2 linked regions of the Homo sapiens genome follow. The protein of the gene in region 2 interacts with the protein of the main gene of each other region in a pairwise test. Each region holds a gene or a part of one and is shown on either strand. Other genes may lie near its edges.

The links. Proteins that work in one complex are often made in the same cells at the same time.
Region 1: the proteins of SYK (region 2) and SH2D2A interact in binary tests that used the Homo sapiens proteins (3 or more experiments, as listed by UniProt).

What each region holds. Positions count from the first base shown.
Region 1 is NC_000001.11:156,806,849-156,813,848, forward strand, and holds part of SH2D2A (SH2 domain-containing protein 2A), read right to left. Parts: coding exon 7,000-7,000; intron 2,960-6,999; coding exon 2,813-2,959; intron 2,643-2,812; coding exon 2,355-2,642; coding exon of another isoform or gene 2,289-2,354; exon of another isoform or gene 498-2,288; coding exon 330-497; 3' UTR 327-329; exon of another isoform or gene 1-326. UniProt on the Homo sapiens protein: Could be a T-cell-specific adapter protein involved in the control of T-cell activation. May play a role in the CD4-p56-LCK-dependent signal transduction pathway. Could also play an important role in normal and pathological angiogenesis.
Region 2 is NC_000009.12:90,839,714-90,846,856, forward strand, and holds part of SYK (tyrosine-protein kinase SYK), read left to right. Parts: intron 1-4,144; 5' UTR 4,145-4,185; coding exon 4,186-4,602; intron 4,603-5,720; coding exon 5,721-5,881; intron 5,882-7,143. UniProt on the Homo sapiens protein: Non-receptor tyrosine kinase which mediates signal transduction downstream of a variety of transmembrane receptors including classical immunoreceptors like the B-cell receptor (BCR).

The sequences.
Region 1 (7,000 bases), on a different chromosome or scaffold from region 2:
TAAGGACAAATGTAATGCTGCTCATCCTCCCGCTCTTACCCGTGGCAGACATCACTAATCAATCATGTGCTTTTTTTCTGCTGAGTTCAGATATGACCTTAACATCCTTTCCAATGCAGCACTCTAGGCAGCCACGACCAATGGATTGGAGTTGGCATGCAAGATGACACCTCTTTGCCATCCTTGCAATAGATGATGGCTGAGCTCCTTTCCAGCTTTGAACACCTATGGTTTATTCCATCCACATTTCTTGAGAAGTGTGCCAGGTGTGTGTGAAGGTCTCTGGACCTGATGCTCCAAGTTATCCTCACCAAGCTCAGACTTACCGCCTACTGAGGAGGCCCAAGGGGAAGCCATGCCTGTCCTCTGTCCTGAAGCACCTGTCTAGAAAGATTGTGGGGGAGGGTGTGTCTCCAGGCGGGTGGGGGCTGGTGGGGCAGGGGAGGGCCTTGCCCAATCACAGAGTTCTCAGAATGCAGCTGGGAGCCACCTGTATTCTGCAGAGAGAAGGACAGTTCTAGGTCACACCCTCTACCCTCTGCCTCCTAGGTGTACTTGCAGTCTCAAGACATCTGATCTGAACAGACTTTGGCTTCCAGAGAGGGTATCTAAACTCCTCTCATTCATTAATTCAACAAACATCTCCTGAGCACCTGCTCTGTGCCAGGCACTGGGCTGGGTGCTTTGGAAACAGATGGGTAAGTCCCAGCCCCTCCCTTCAGGGAACTCACACTCTAAACTAGGGAAGGGACAGAGAGAAGGAGATGGGAGGAGATGGATGTCTCAGGTGATCAGTGGCATGGCAGGTGTGTGTAAGGCACAGGGGGTGGCCTCTGAGAAGGGAAAGCTGGTCTTGAAGGATGATTAGAAAGTTGCCAGGCAGCGGGAGGATGAGGTTGCAGGAAGTTGCTATAGGCAGAGATACTGGCGGGTGCAAACCCCAGGAGGCTTGAAACCACTTGGTGAGTTTAGAGAAATGTGAATCATTCTAGGAGAATGGGAGTGGCTGGTGGTAAGGCTAAGGAGGTGAGACCCCCCACCCAACCCAAGTCTAGAGTGCTTCATGGGCCAGGCAGCTGCTTCAGCAAGACCATTCTGGCTCTTTGGTGCAGAGTGGATCAGAAGTGGCAAGAATGGTGGTTAGGAAACCAGTTAAGAAGCTCTTGGGAGCCAGGTGAGGTGGCTCGAGCCTGTAATCTCAGCTGAGGTGGGAGGATCACTTGCACCCAGGAGTTCAAGTTTGCAGTGAGCTATGATTGTGCCACTGCACTCCAGCCTGGGTGACAAAGCCAGACCCCAATGATGGGGGCTGGAGCTGGGGGAAGGAAAAATATACTTAGGAAGAGATCCAGCAGGAATGAGTGGCTTACTGGGGGAGTAAAGAGGGAGCTGTGCTGAGGGAGCCCTGGGATTCTGGCTTGGCTAGCTGGGTAGCTGGAGAGTTAGCAATCAGGACAGTGAACATGGGACCGAGCTGTTTGGAGGGCAAGGGTGAGAGCGCTGTTGGCCGTGTTGAGTTTGAGGGGCTCAGGGATGCTGGGGGGAACTGACCAGAAGCTTGGAAAAAAGTTTGGACGGAGATATGGACAGGTGACGTTAGCTCTAGGACAGCAGACGTTGGCAGGGGTGTGGGTGAGCGCGAGCAGGCTCAGGCTGAGCAGGGAGCCTGGGGCACCAGCAAGGAGGGAGGATGGGGAAGGGTCTGAGGAGGGAGGCTGGGGAAGGGCTTTGGGAGGGCCGCAGAGGCCGAGGGAGAGGGTGGGATGGCTGCTGGGGCTAACCCATGGCATGAGGTACTGACTTGAAGGGTAGGCAAGAAGACTTAGGGCTGGGGAGAAGGAAGAGGGAGACAGGGAGTACACAGAAGCAGGCTGGGAGAGCAGGGTCCCCCTCCCCTGAGCTCACTGAGATGACATAAGGGAACCCAAGTGCTCTTTTTCTCCAGGACAGCAGGGCCGTGAAGGCCAAGGGAGAGAGCCAGAGAGGCACGGGGTGGGGTCAGCCCCAGGTGCGTCTGAAGAGGGCCTGCAGGACAAGATGGACGCAGATCAAAAAAGCCTCGATGTGGGAGGTGGAGGGGCACCCTGCCTGGGGGCCTCTGTTTTCTGTGTGAGATAGGAGGGCATGGGGGCTTGACAAAGATGAGGTCTGAGCGACTCTGGGGAGAAGAGGGGGCAGCCTCTGGGCCTGGAGAAGGGAGGCTGGTGCCTGGATCATTCTGTTCTTCCCACATCACCTCACACCTCTGCCCCTTACCCTGCCCCAGGCATCCACTCTGAACACCTTCTTCACCTTCCCCCATCTACCTGCAGGGAGACCTTCTTGCACCTACCTTTCCCTGCATACCCATTTACCTGGCCTCCTGGGACAGGCCTGGACCAGCTCTTCCGTAGGACAGGGTGCCCAAGGGTGGCGGGTAGGCCCTCATCTTCCACTTCCACATAGATGTTGCTGGGGGCTTCCCCAGGGCTGCCCCGGCCCATGGCATAGAAAGCTATGGGTTCATCAGGCTCATTGTAGATAGGATTGGAGGGCTTGGGGCGTGGGGCCGGGCGGTGTCGTGGAACAGGGATTGTGTAGACTTCTGGGGGCAGCTGAGGTTTGGCGGGGATGGGAGGCTTGGGCCTGAGCAGCTGGGAGGGCTGGGAGAGAAGGTGAGGCCAGGGAGGAGTGGGGTGAGGGAGGCAGGGTTAAAGCCCCAGCCTAACTCCCAGCCTGAGCCTCTGCCCCCGCTAGGCCCCTCCTCCTCCCCGCTGCCTGCACCCCCTCGCAGGCCTGTCCTCCCACTCCCTCAGCCCCTGCAGCCCAATACCTCCTTCTCCCCGGCCCCCTCTTTCTGCATCGGGACTGGGGCTTGCCCCTGTTTGATGATTGGGCTGTACTGGGGGTTTGGGTCCTGGCTTTTGCTTCCAAAGTTTGATTCTTCGGTCCTCAGGGAAAGTCCTGCAGGCTCAGGAGTCTGCTGGGAAAGAAGGAGGTCTGAGGCACTCGGTGGAGCGTTGGGGTGGGGGAGGTGATCAGGAGGACAAAATAATCCAGTCTAAGTGGAGGATGGGGGAAGGGGGAGGAGCACAGAAATTTGGCCTGGGCTGGGTTCCCTGGATGAGGAAGAGGGGGTGGTGACGGCAGGGAGACCCAGGGTTGGATGGAGGCAGTGGTAAGCTCTGGTCACAGGCCATATCTAGCATTAAAGTTTTTCTTTTTTAAGATAGAGTCTCACTCTGTTGCCCAGGCTGAAGTGTGGTGGTGCAGTCTCAGCTCACTGCAGCCTTGACCTCCTGGGCTCAAGCTATCCTCTTGCCTCAGCCTCCCAAGTAGCTGGGACTACAGGCATGTGCCACCACACCGGCTAATTGTGTTTTCATTTCTTGTAGAGATGAGGTCTCACTATGTTGCCCAGGCTTGGTCTTGAACTCTTGGGTTCAAGTGATCCTCCCACCTCAGCCTTCTTGCGTCTTAGGATTACAGGCGTAAGCCACCACACTTGGCTGCATTAAACTTAATTTCTTCTGGAACACAGGGCCAGGCCAGATTCCATTTGTGCCTGTGGTTCTGAAAATGCAACATGGCTTTACACGTCTTTAACTGAAAAATTATTGACATGGGGACCAATCTCCATGACAGCTGTGCTTGTGTTTATTTCTGTACTGCCGGTTACTTTATGGAAATATAAGCTATTTTTTTTTTTTTGAGACCAAGTCTCATTCTGTCATCCAGGCTGGAGTGCAGTGGCGCAATCTCGGCTCACTGCAACCTCCGCCTCCTGGGTTCAAGACATTCTCCTGCCTCAGCCTCCCAAGTAGCTAAGATTACAGGCGCCCACCACCACACCCAGCTAATGTTTGTATTTTTTAGTAGAGATGGAGTTTTGCCACGTTGGCCAGGCTGGTCTCGAAATCCTGATCTCAGGTGATCCGCCACTTTGGCCTCCCAAAGTGCTGGGATTACAGGTGTGAGCCACTGCGCCCGGCCATAAGCTAACATTTTTAAGGGCAGAGACCACCTCAGGAGAGAGGAGCCCCATGTGGGATGGTTCCGTCTCACAGAGGGTCTGCTTTTAGCTCCGTGTTAGCCCTTGGTCCATGAATGCTGTCCCCATGCCTGCTGCCACTGTAGGCTAAGGTCACAGGGCTTTTCTTGTGCTCCTGCAATCCACCAAGTGCATGTCTCCATCGGGAGGTGTACTGCAGATATACTGTGGAAATCAAAGAATTCTTTTTCCTGCCCTAACCCCCTCCTCTCTCAGCATCTCCTTCCGGAATAAAAAGTAGCACCTCCACCCTGCTGCCGAAACAGCACCTTAGGAGTCATCCTTGATGCCTCCACCTCCTCCCTCTTGACATGAAATCAAACACAAGTCCTGCTCCTTCCACTGTCTAAATATCGTTCACATCTGAGTACTTTTCTCCATGCACATGGCCAGCACCCTAGTTCAGGCCTCCTGACTCCTCCCCCTGCATCGTCTTGCCCTTCCAATCCACTCTCCAGTCTTCGAGCAGAGCAATCTTACAGAAACTCCCCTAGCAATCCTTGGGTGGCAGCCCATTGCCCCAGAATAAGTCAGACTCCTGAGAGCTTGAGTGACAAGACTCTGTGTGATCTCAGACTTCTACAGCTCTGCCTTCAGGCTTCTCAGGTCAGGCTGGCTCCTCCTCACCCCCAGACTTCCCTACGCCCTGTGAATCTCAGGTCTCTGCCTGTTCCTCACAGAAAAGGCAGTGACCACAGGCACTGTCCCCACTTGTTTTAACTGACCCAAATCAAGTTCTGTGAAACTCTTCTTGTCTAGGTCACCAATGACCTCCTCTCTGTCAAACCTAGTATCAATTCCACCCTCTGCCCTCACCCGCCTTCACTCACTTTCTTCGCTTGGCTTCCAGAGCATCACACTCTTCTGGCTTTTCTCCTCTTTCTGAGCGCTCTGCTCTGTTTTCTTTGTCAGTTCCCCCTCATTTCTGCAAACTCTAAATGCTGGAGACCTGGGCTTCATTTCCTTCCCACCTACACTGACTTCCGAGTGAGATTTCTCCCCTCCTAAAGGTTTTAGAGTCCATCTAAGTGCTGGTGACTCTCAATATTTGTCTGCAGCCCATCCCTTTGTCCCAGTCCCCAGACTCTGAATTCCAGCTGCCTACTTGACATCTCCATGCTGAACTGCACGTGTAGAAAACAGAACTCCTGATCACCTGCCTCCTGCCTGGATGTGTTCCTCCTAGAACTTTTCTCAACTCAGTCAATGACAAGTCCATCTTTTCACACTCCTCATCCAATCCCACAAAAACCCAGCAGCTCCACCTTCTGAGGAGACTTCCACCCTCCTCATGCCTCCTGGAGGCACCCACCTCTGCTACCCTGACCCAGGCTGCCATCATTTCATGTGAAATATTGCTCCTCCCGAAACTTGCCAGGCCATGTCACCCCTCAGCTTGTAAGTCTCCAGTGCCACCTCGTCTCGCTCAGAATAAAACTTCAAATGCATACAAGAGTCTACAGGGCCCCCCTCCCTCACCCCTCTGATCTCATCTCCTACCTCTCTATCCCTCAGTCACCGGATCCACCCATGCTAACTTCCTCTCTGCTCCCATCATTCCTCAGACACACCAAGTCTCCTCCTGCCTCAGGGCCTTTGCACCTGCTGTGCCTGCTGCCGAGAATGCTTTTCCTCCAGTTGTCTGCATGGCTCTTCTCCTATTTCATACAGGCCTCTATTCAGATGTCCGCTTACCCGAGTGGCCTTCCCTGACACCCTGTGTAGAACAGCCCCAATCCTGTCACTCTTCAACAATATTTCACATGAAATGATGGCAGCCTGGGCCAGTGTAGCAGAGGCAGGTGCCTCCAGGAGGCATGAGGAGGGTGGAGGCTGGGTCTGCTTGGAAGGTGGAGCTGCTGGTGGAGCTCTTTGGTTTTCTTGTCAGTGTGTACTCATCATTACTAGACAGACTCTGTCTTCTTTGCTTGTTATCCATATTACTCACTCGTCTGTCTCCTCCTTCTAGAATGGAAGCTCTTGAAGGCAGAGATATTCAGGTCATTTACATTCACTCCTGTTTTTCCAGTGCGCAGAAAGTTGCGTGGCACACAGTGGTCCCTCAGCACTGCCTGAACTTGTGCACCGCTGCCTGCTAGGCTAAATGGTACCCTGTATTTCTTCTTGAATCACAGTCTCCACCCTGGATTTCTATTACTTGTCTGTTTTTGCTGCTGGAAAGTAGGCTTTGTGAGTTTGAGATCCATCTGTCTGTCTTGTTCATGGGTCTGTTCTCAGGGCCTGCCAGCAGTTGGTAGGCCCTAAGTACTCCGTAAGTATCTCTTACATTAAAAAACAAATGACTAGGCTGGGCGCAGTGGCTCACGCCTGTAATCCCAGCTACTCAGGGGTCCCATTCAGGAGACCCCCGCATCCTCCCCTGGCCTCATCCTGGAAGGGCAGCCTGCAGGGGCTGCTACTGCAGCAACAGGGATGGGAAAGTAAGTAGTTGGACTTCCAGATTTCAGAAGTCAAAGCTGAAAATACCAGGTGGAAAATACCAGCATTCGAGGCCTTAGGGATAGGAGGATAATGGGGCCTAGAGGGGGGAAGCTGACTCAGGAGGCTGAGGCAGGAGAATCACTTGAACCCGGGAGGTGGAGTTTGCAGGGAGAGAAGATCGCGCCACTGCACTCCAGCCTGCGCGACAGAGCGAGACTCTGTCTAAAACAAAGCAAAAGAAAACAAAAAACAAAACCCCAAATGACTCTGTGTGCCCCTGGCCTCTCCTTGCCCCTCTGACTCCGTGTGGCTGGGCTGGTCTCTTAAGGACGGTCCCCCAGCACTCATATTTCTCGAAGGGCCTGCCACCCTCCCATGAAGATGAAGATGCCTGGGTAAGGGAGGCATGCCCGAGTGGTGTTTCGGGATGAGAAAGTGCCTGGTGCCGCGTCCTGCGCCTGGGCTCTGAGCGGGAGGGGCGCTGGCCCGAGACCCTGGGCTCTCTGGTCAGGGTCTGGGGCGCGTACC
Region 2 (7,143 bases):
GTCTGCTGTTCTGCAACTACATAAAAAGTAACCTGGGCCCTGCAGAGGGGACACAAGCATCGGGGCCAGGTACACAGTGACAGGGGTATTTGAGCTGGGTCTGTAAGGATGACTGAGATGGCTGGGAGGAAGAGCTGCACGCCTCAGCAGAAAGCACACGTGGTGAGAACAAGAAGGGAAAGCCACAGCATCCCGGTGCAGTCCAGTGTGGTCTGTGGACTGGGCATGTTGGAATAGGCAGGAAGGGCTGATGTGCGCTTTGAGGGAGGACCGGGCAGCTGGAGAGGGAGGCGTCAGGAAGCAGGAGGGCAGAAGGTGAGGAGTGAAGGGCAGCAGTGGAAAGGACAGGGTTACGCCAAGCAGTGGTCATGGATATGGGCAGTAAGGAACATGCACCAAGGGCGCCTGGAAAACGAACCTTAGAGAACGCAAGTCCTGCGGAGGACTCCTGGGTTCCTGGCTGGGACACCGCCTGGGCAGGGAAGGCAGAGAAGATGGAGAACCTGGTCTCAGGTGGCATCAGAACCCAGCATCCGCATCACCAGGATTGCAGGAGCAGCAGCGTCTCAGGCCCTGGGTGTGTCAGAGCCCCCAGGCCACGTGGAAGTATGAGACGTGCTGGGCTGCAGGGGAAACAATGGAAATGAGGTTGGAGGCCCGAGAAGACCCACTGCAGGAAAAGGGTGGAGTGGGGGAAAAGCAGGCTGGGGGCAGTGGCTGGCCTGCAACAAAAGCATTGTAGAATGCAGGCGTGAGCCACCGCGCCCGGCCAAGGCGGGCAGATCATGAGGTCAGGAGATCGCGACCATCCTGGCTAATGCGGTGAAACCCCGTCTCTTCTAAAAAAAAAAAAAAAAAAAAAACTGTAGAAAGGGGAAAGCAGTCCAAAGAGAAGTATTTCTTCCAAGAGACTCATCAGCACACTGTGTTTCCAGAGATGTCTTTCTGTTAACAGCATTCTTAGACTCAAAAGTAAATGTAGATATACTTTAAAAAACAAAAACACCTTGCTAAGAGATGAATTTTTAGAAACTTGTTGGACAAAGAAAAGTCATTGATAGTCAACTGCTGTGAGAGGCAAGCCAGGAAATGATGATTAATACCCTCAAATTATAATAAAACCCATGCCTCATTAGGGGCTCGCCCAGGAGTACTGACTTGTGGATAGACACCGTCTGGGGAAAACTCTGTCGCCTGTGTCAGGCTGATGCTCTTACATTTTATAGCCCCTTGTAGGATAGTGCATGTTGAGAAGAAGCCGCTTCACATCATCGTGGTGCAGGATCTGTGGTGTGGTGTGCTTCATGTGTGTGTTTTGTGTGTGTAGTGTGTATGTAGTGTAGTGTTAGTTGTGTGTACTATGGTGTGTGTGTGGCATGTATGTAGTTTGTGTGTGGTGTGTGTGCAGTGTGTGTGATGTGTGTAGTGTGCATGTAGTGATGTGGTGTGGTTTGTGTGTGTTTTTATGTGTAGTGTGTAGTATGTGTGTTGCATGTAGTGTGTTGTGTGTCGTGTGTATGTAGTTTGTGTGTGTGGTGTGTTTGCAGTGTGTGTGGGTGTGTACTGTGTTATGTGTGTAATGTGTATGTAGTTTGTGTGCTGCACGTAGTGTGTTGTGTGTACTGTGTATGTAGTTTGTGTATACTGTGTGTAGTATGTGTGCAGTGTGTGTGTAGTTTGTGTATGACGTGTGCAGTGTGTGTAAGATGTGTGTAGTGTGTTGTGTGTGTAGTGTGTATGTAGTTTGTGTGTGTGTGGTGTGCGTTTAGTGCATGTGTGGTATGTGTCCATATGTGTGGCATGCATGTAGTGGGCATGTAGTATGGGGGTGTATGTGTGTGGTGTAGTGTGTGTGATGTGTGTAGTGTGCATGTAGTTGTGTGGTGTGTTTCGTGTGTGTTTTGTGTGTGTAGTGTGTATGTAGTGTAGCATGTGTTTAGTATGGTGTGTGGTGTGTATGTAGTTTGTGTGTGATATGTGTGTAGTATGTGTGATGTGTGTAGTGTGTACTGTGTGTGGTGTGTATGTATTTTGTGTGTGTGGTGTATGTGATGTGTGTAGTACATGGTGTGTGTAGTGTGTTATGTGTGTAGTGTGTTGTATGTGGTGTGTATGTAGTTTGTGTGTTGTGTGTGCAGTGTGTTATGTGTGTTGTGTGTGTAGTGTGTATGTAGTCTGTGGTGTGTGTGATGTGGGTAGTGTCCGTGTAGTACATGGTGTGTGTAGTGTGTGTGGTGTGTGTAGTGTGTTGTATGTGGAGTGTATGTAGTTTTTGTGTGTTGTGTGTGCAGTGTGTGATATGTGTAGTGTGTTGTGTGTGTGGTGTACGTGTAGTTGGTGTGTGTGATGTGTGTAGTGTCCATGTAGTACATGGTGTGTGTAGTGTGTGTAGTGTGTTGTATGTGGTATGTATGTAATTTGTGTTGTGTGTGCAGTGTGTGTTGTTTGTAGTGTGTTGTGTGTGTGGTGTGTATGTAGTTTGTGTGTGTGGTGTGTGTGTGATGTGCATAGTGTGCGTGTAGTGCATGGTGTGTGTGTAGTGCAGCTGTGGCATGTGTTCGTAGTGTGTGTGGCATGCATGTAGTGTCCATGTGGTATGGAGTGTGTGTGTGTGGTGTAGTGTATGTGATGTGTGTGGTGTGTGGTGTACCGTATGTGATGTGTGTAGTGCGCATGTAGTCATGTGGTGTGTTTCATGTGTGTTTTGTGTGTATGTAACGTAGAATTTGGTGTGTGCGGTGTGTTTCATGTGTGTGGTGTGTATGTAGTTTGTGTGTATGTGTATGTGTGTGGGGTAGTGTGTGTGATGTGTGTTGTGTGCATGCAGTGGTGTGTTTCATGTCTGTTTTGTGTGTGTAGCATGTATGTAGTGTAGCATGTGATGTGTGTAGTGTGTTTCGTGTGTGTGGTATGTATGTAGTTTGTGTGTTTGGTGTGTGTGATGTGCATAGTGTGCATGTAGTACATGGTGTGTGTGTAGTGCAGGTGTGGCATGTGTTCATAGTGTGTGTGGCATGCATGTAGTGTGCATGTGGTATGGAGAGAGTGTGTGTGTGTGTGTGTGTGTGTGTGTGTGTGTGTGTGTACCATGAGGGACATGCGCTTTGCTCCCTGGATAAATGGATGGAGTCATGTAGATAATTTTCCATTCACGACCAGCCCCTTTTGGTTAAAATGTGCCTCCTTGGATACTTTTGGGGCTGGCAATATGTATCCTTCTAGTTTACAACCATGATTGAGAGGGAATACTCTCCATGTTAAATATGCATTGGCCGCCTTTCTTTTTGCTTCTGAAATGTATTTATTTACTGCAAGCAGTGTCTCTCCTGTGTCAGATGTCCTCGTGGGCTGGGAACCGGCACTATCTCTTTAGCACGGGCCCTGCAGATGGGAAGTGGCGTTGCCCAGGAAGTGGTCTGGAGAAGCGGGGAGAAGACAGCCTATGGGCCCCAGGCCTCGGGAGCCAGGGAGGGTGTCACTCTTCATGTCTCAGGCAGTGGCTTGTTGCTATCATAGCCCCGGGCTGGAGGTGGGAAGGCCTTATGGTGACCACAAGTCACAGTTCCGTGTGGGCCCTCAACGTGGCCTCACTTCACCTCTGGGGCTCAGCACCAGCGTGTGACTGACTGCTCGAGGCAGCGTCTCGCAGCTCAGGTGGGTGAGGTGGTGGTAGCGTCCTCCTTGGTAATATCACTGTGATGAGGAGCAAGGCTTCTCTAACATTGTCTGGACTCAGGAGGAGCAGTTGGTTTGTTCTCATGTAGATTCTGCCTCCTGTATGCTGCTGGGACCCTGAGGGTCAGCCCAAGAGTCCTGTTTTGCAATAGCCCTTCTGTTTGCTTCTCTTTGCGGTATGTTTATTTTTAGAATTCTTTGTCTTTCCCCACTCCCCCCAAAAAAGAATTATTTAATTTGGTCACTTCCATCAAATGCTCTGATTTTAGCTTAGTTAGAAGGCATGCTGAAAACTGTAATGATGATGTGAACAGAAAGACAACTGTGTGTTGGGAGGGCCAAAGAGGGAAGTGCCTTTGTTCAGAGATGGGAGGGTTTGTCTCCACTTTGAAAGGGTTTGAGTGGTTTTAGCAAACGTTCCCTGCCACGTGGGGTCCTCACCAAAGTTCTCTGTCTCTGTCTTGCCCAGGTGGACACCTGCGCAGGTGTGTGCCCTCCGGCCCCTGAAGCATGGCCAGCAGCGGCATGGCTGACAGCGCCAACCACCTGCCCTTCTTTTTCGGCAACATCACCCGGGAGGAGGCAGAAGATTACCTGGTCCAGGGGGGCATGAGTGATGGGCTTTATTTGCTGCGCCAGAGCCGCAACTACCTGGGTGGCTTCGCCCTGTCCGTGGCCCACGGGAGGAAGGCACACCACTACACCATCGAGCGGGAGCTGAATGGCACCTACGCCATCGCCGGTGGCAGGACCCATGCCAGCCCCGCCGACCTCTGCCACTACCACTCCCAGGAGTCTGATGGCCTGGTCTGCCTCCTCAAGAAGCCCTTCAACCGGCCCCAAGGGGTGCAGCCCAAGACTGGGCCCTTTGAGGATTTGAAGGAAAACCTCATCAGGGAATATGTGAAGCAGACATGGAACCTGCAGGTGGGCCACAGCTGGTCCTGCTCCCTGGGCCCAGGGGGCCCTGTGACCCCACACAGACTTCCTGGCTACATGCAACACATGTGCCTATGTGCCCTGTGTGCCCAAATAACACAACCATCTCCTTAAGCATCAATTTTGGCCAAAAAATGCCTCTCTCTGATAAGAGCCTTTCCTCTTTCACAGCCACAGCTGAGAGGGTGGGTCCCTTTGTGCCAGCAGTGTGGGTTTCTCCACAGCAGGGAACCACTGTTACCCAGTGCAAGGAGGGCCTTTTCAGAGAGGCATTGATAGGTGTTGATTGGTTTCTGTTTATCTGACAAGGTCCTACCATACACACTGATAGGCACTTGATTTTATGGCTTCCTAATATCTCTTGCAGAACTTTCTGTGTCAACACTCATATAGTTGCATCACCCGTTCTTTGGCTATCTGGTATCACCTGCTATGCACCACAATTTATTTAACTAGTACCTATTGATGGACACATTTGCTGTTTATGAATAAACGCTGCTAACAACATTGCTCTAGACCTATCGTATACTACACTTGTATGCAACGTCTGCAGGATAAACTTTGAAAGGGTTGGGATTGCCACAGCAAAGGATATGTGTGTTTATTTTTTTATTTTTTATTTTTTTGAGACAGAGTCTTGCTCTGTCACCCAGGCTGGAGTGCAGTGGCATGATCTCAGCTCAATGCAACCTCTGGCTCCAAGGTTCAAGCGATTCTACTGCCTCAGCCTCCCAAGTAGCTGGGATTACAGGCATGTGCCACCACACCTGGCTAATTTTTGTATTTTTAGTAGAGATGGGGTTTCACCATGCTGGCCAGGCTGGTCTCGAACTCCTGACCTCAAGTGAACCATCCTCCTTGGCCTCCCAAAATACTGGGATTATAAGCGTGAGCCACCGTGCCCGGCCATGTTATTTTTATTTATACACTTGAAAGTACTTAAGTAATGTGTAAAGGTCTTTCTGGTTTTATTTACTGAATGAATGAGTGAATAAGTTTTGATCCTGTTTTACCATGCCAGGACTCGAGATAGATTGGAAATGCCTTCTGCATCATTTTCATTTTTCCTCGGTATGGTTTACTCTGCTTTGCTCTCCATGTGGCAGGGTCAGGCTCTGGAGCAGGCCATCATCAGTCAGAAGCCTCAGCTGGAGAAGCTGATCGCTACCACAGCCCATGAAAAAATGCCTTGGTTCCATGGAAAAATCTCTCGGGAAGAATCTGAGCAAATTGTCCTGATAGGATCAAAGACAAATGGAAAGTTCCTGTGAGTATCGTGCCTTCCCCCTCACCTCCTGCCACCAGGCCTGTGTGGACAATTGGGAATAATTCAGCTTCCTTGTGACTGGCCCCACATGACCCTGGGAAGAGGCCATGCATTGCCATTTGACAACATGCATGCTGGCCTGTTCTAAAGACATTTCTAACCAAAGCTATCACTTGTGACCCAGTGTTTATTTTGCCCAGTCTAACTCTAAAATGAACACTCTTTTTGGGCACCGAGGGATGTAATATTTAAAGAAAATGTGATTCAGCCCCATATTCTCCTTTTAATGGCAAATTATAGGTTGCATAGCACATTCTGTGGTTATCCAACTAAAATTAAAATACTGCAGTTTTTTTACTCAAACTACCCCCTTGATCTCAGACTTTACTTCTATTTTACATGAAACAAGATGCCAACAGGAAAGATGTTAAGGAAAAGTTCCTGGGAGTAGCATCCATGAGTGGTGAGTGCAGGTTTGAAGACTTCAGCCTTAGGCCCACAGTCATTAGAGGGTCTGTCTGAATCCTGGGTTCTGTTTGCTATCCTCAGTGGTTCAGTGTAAATCTAAATTGTAGAAGGTTCTGAGATACAGGCCAACGTGGTCAGTCAGTTGTCCAGAGAAGGTAAAGAACTGTCTTTGGGAGGTGTCAACCTTGTTCCCTCGAGGGGGTCTGGTCAAGGTGGCTCAGTGGGGCAGTTGTCCCTGGGGGAAATGATCCCCTGGTCACCTCTCAGTGTCCCTACAGAGATGCTTACCTTGGAAACATAACCAGAAACAGCGATGCAGCCTCATGGTTTGGCAATTGGTGAATCCCCAGCCGACTTCGTAAACTTTTCCTAGATTTAGAAGCGTTTTCTCTGCCTGTCCATCTATTCAAAGGAATTTCCTCAGACTTCACTGTCATACCTTGTATTTTAAAAATGATCTTAGCTGAGTGCAGTGGCACGCACCTGTAGTCCCAGCTACTCCTGGCAGGAGGATCGCTTCATCCTCACTATGATCTCACTATCGTTTGAGGCTAGTTTGAGACCAGCCTGGGCAACATAGTGAGGCCCTGTCTCAAAAAAAGAAAAAAAGAAAAGAAAAATTGACCACAATACTCTTAAAAAAAAAAAAAAAAAAGGAAGAAGGAAGAGTGGCCCAGGTTGCCACGCGGCAGTGCCTAGAGTGATGGTCTTTAGTGGGATGCAGCCCCAGCCAGCAGCAGAATGCTGTGGGGAGGGAAGACATTGCCCCTCAGTGGAGGCACCTATGGCTATTT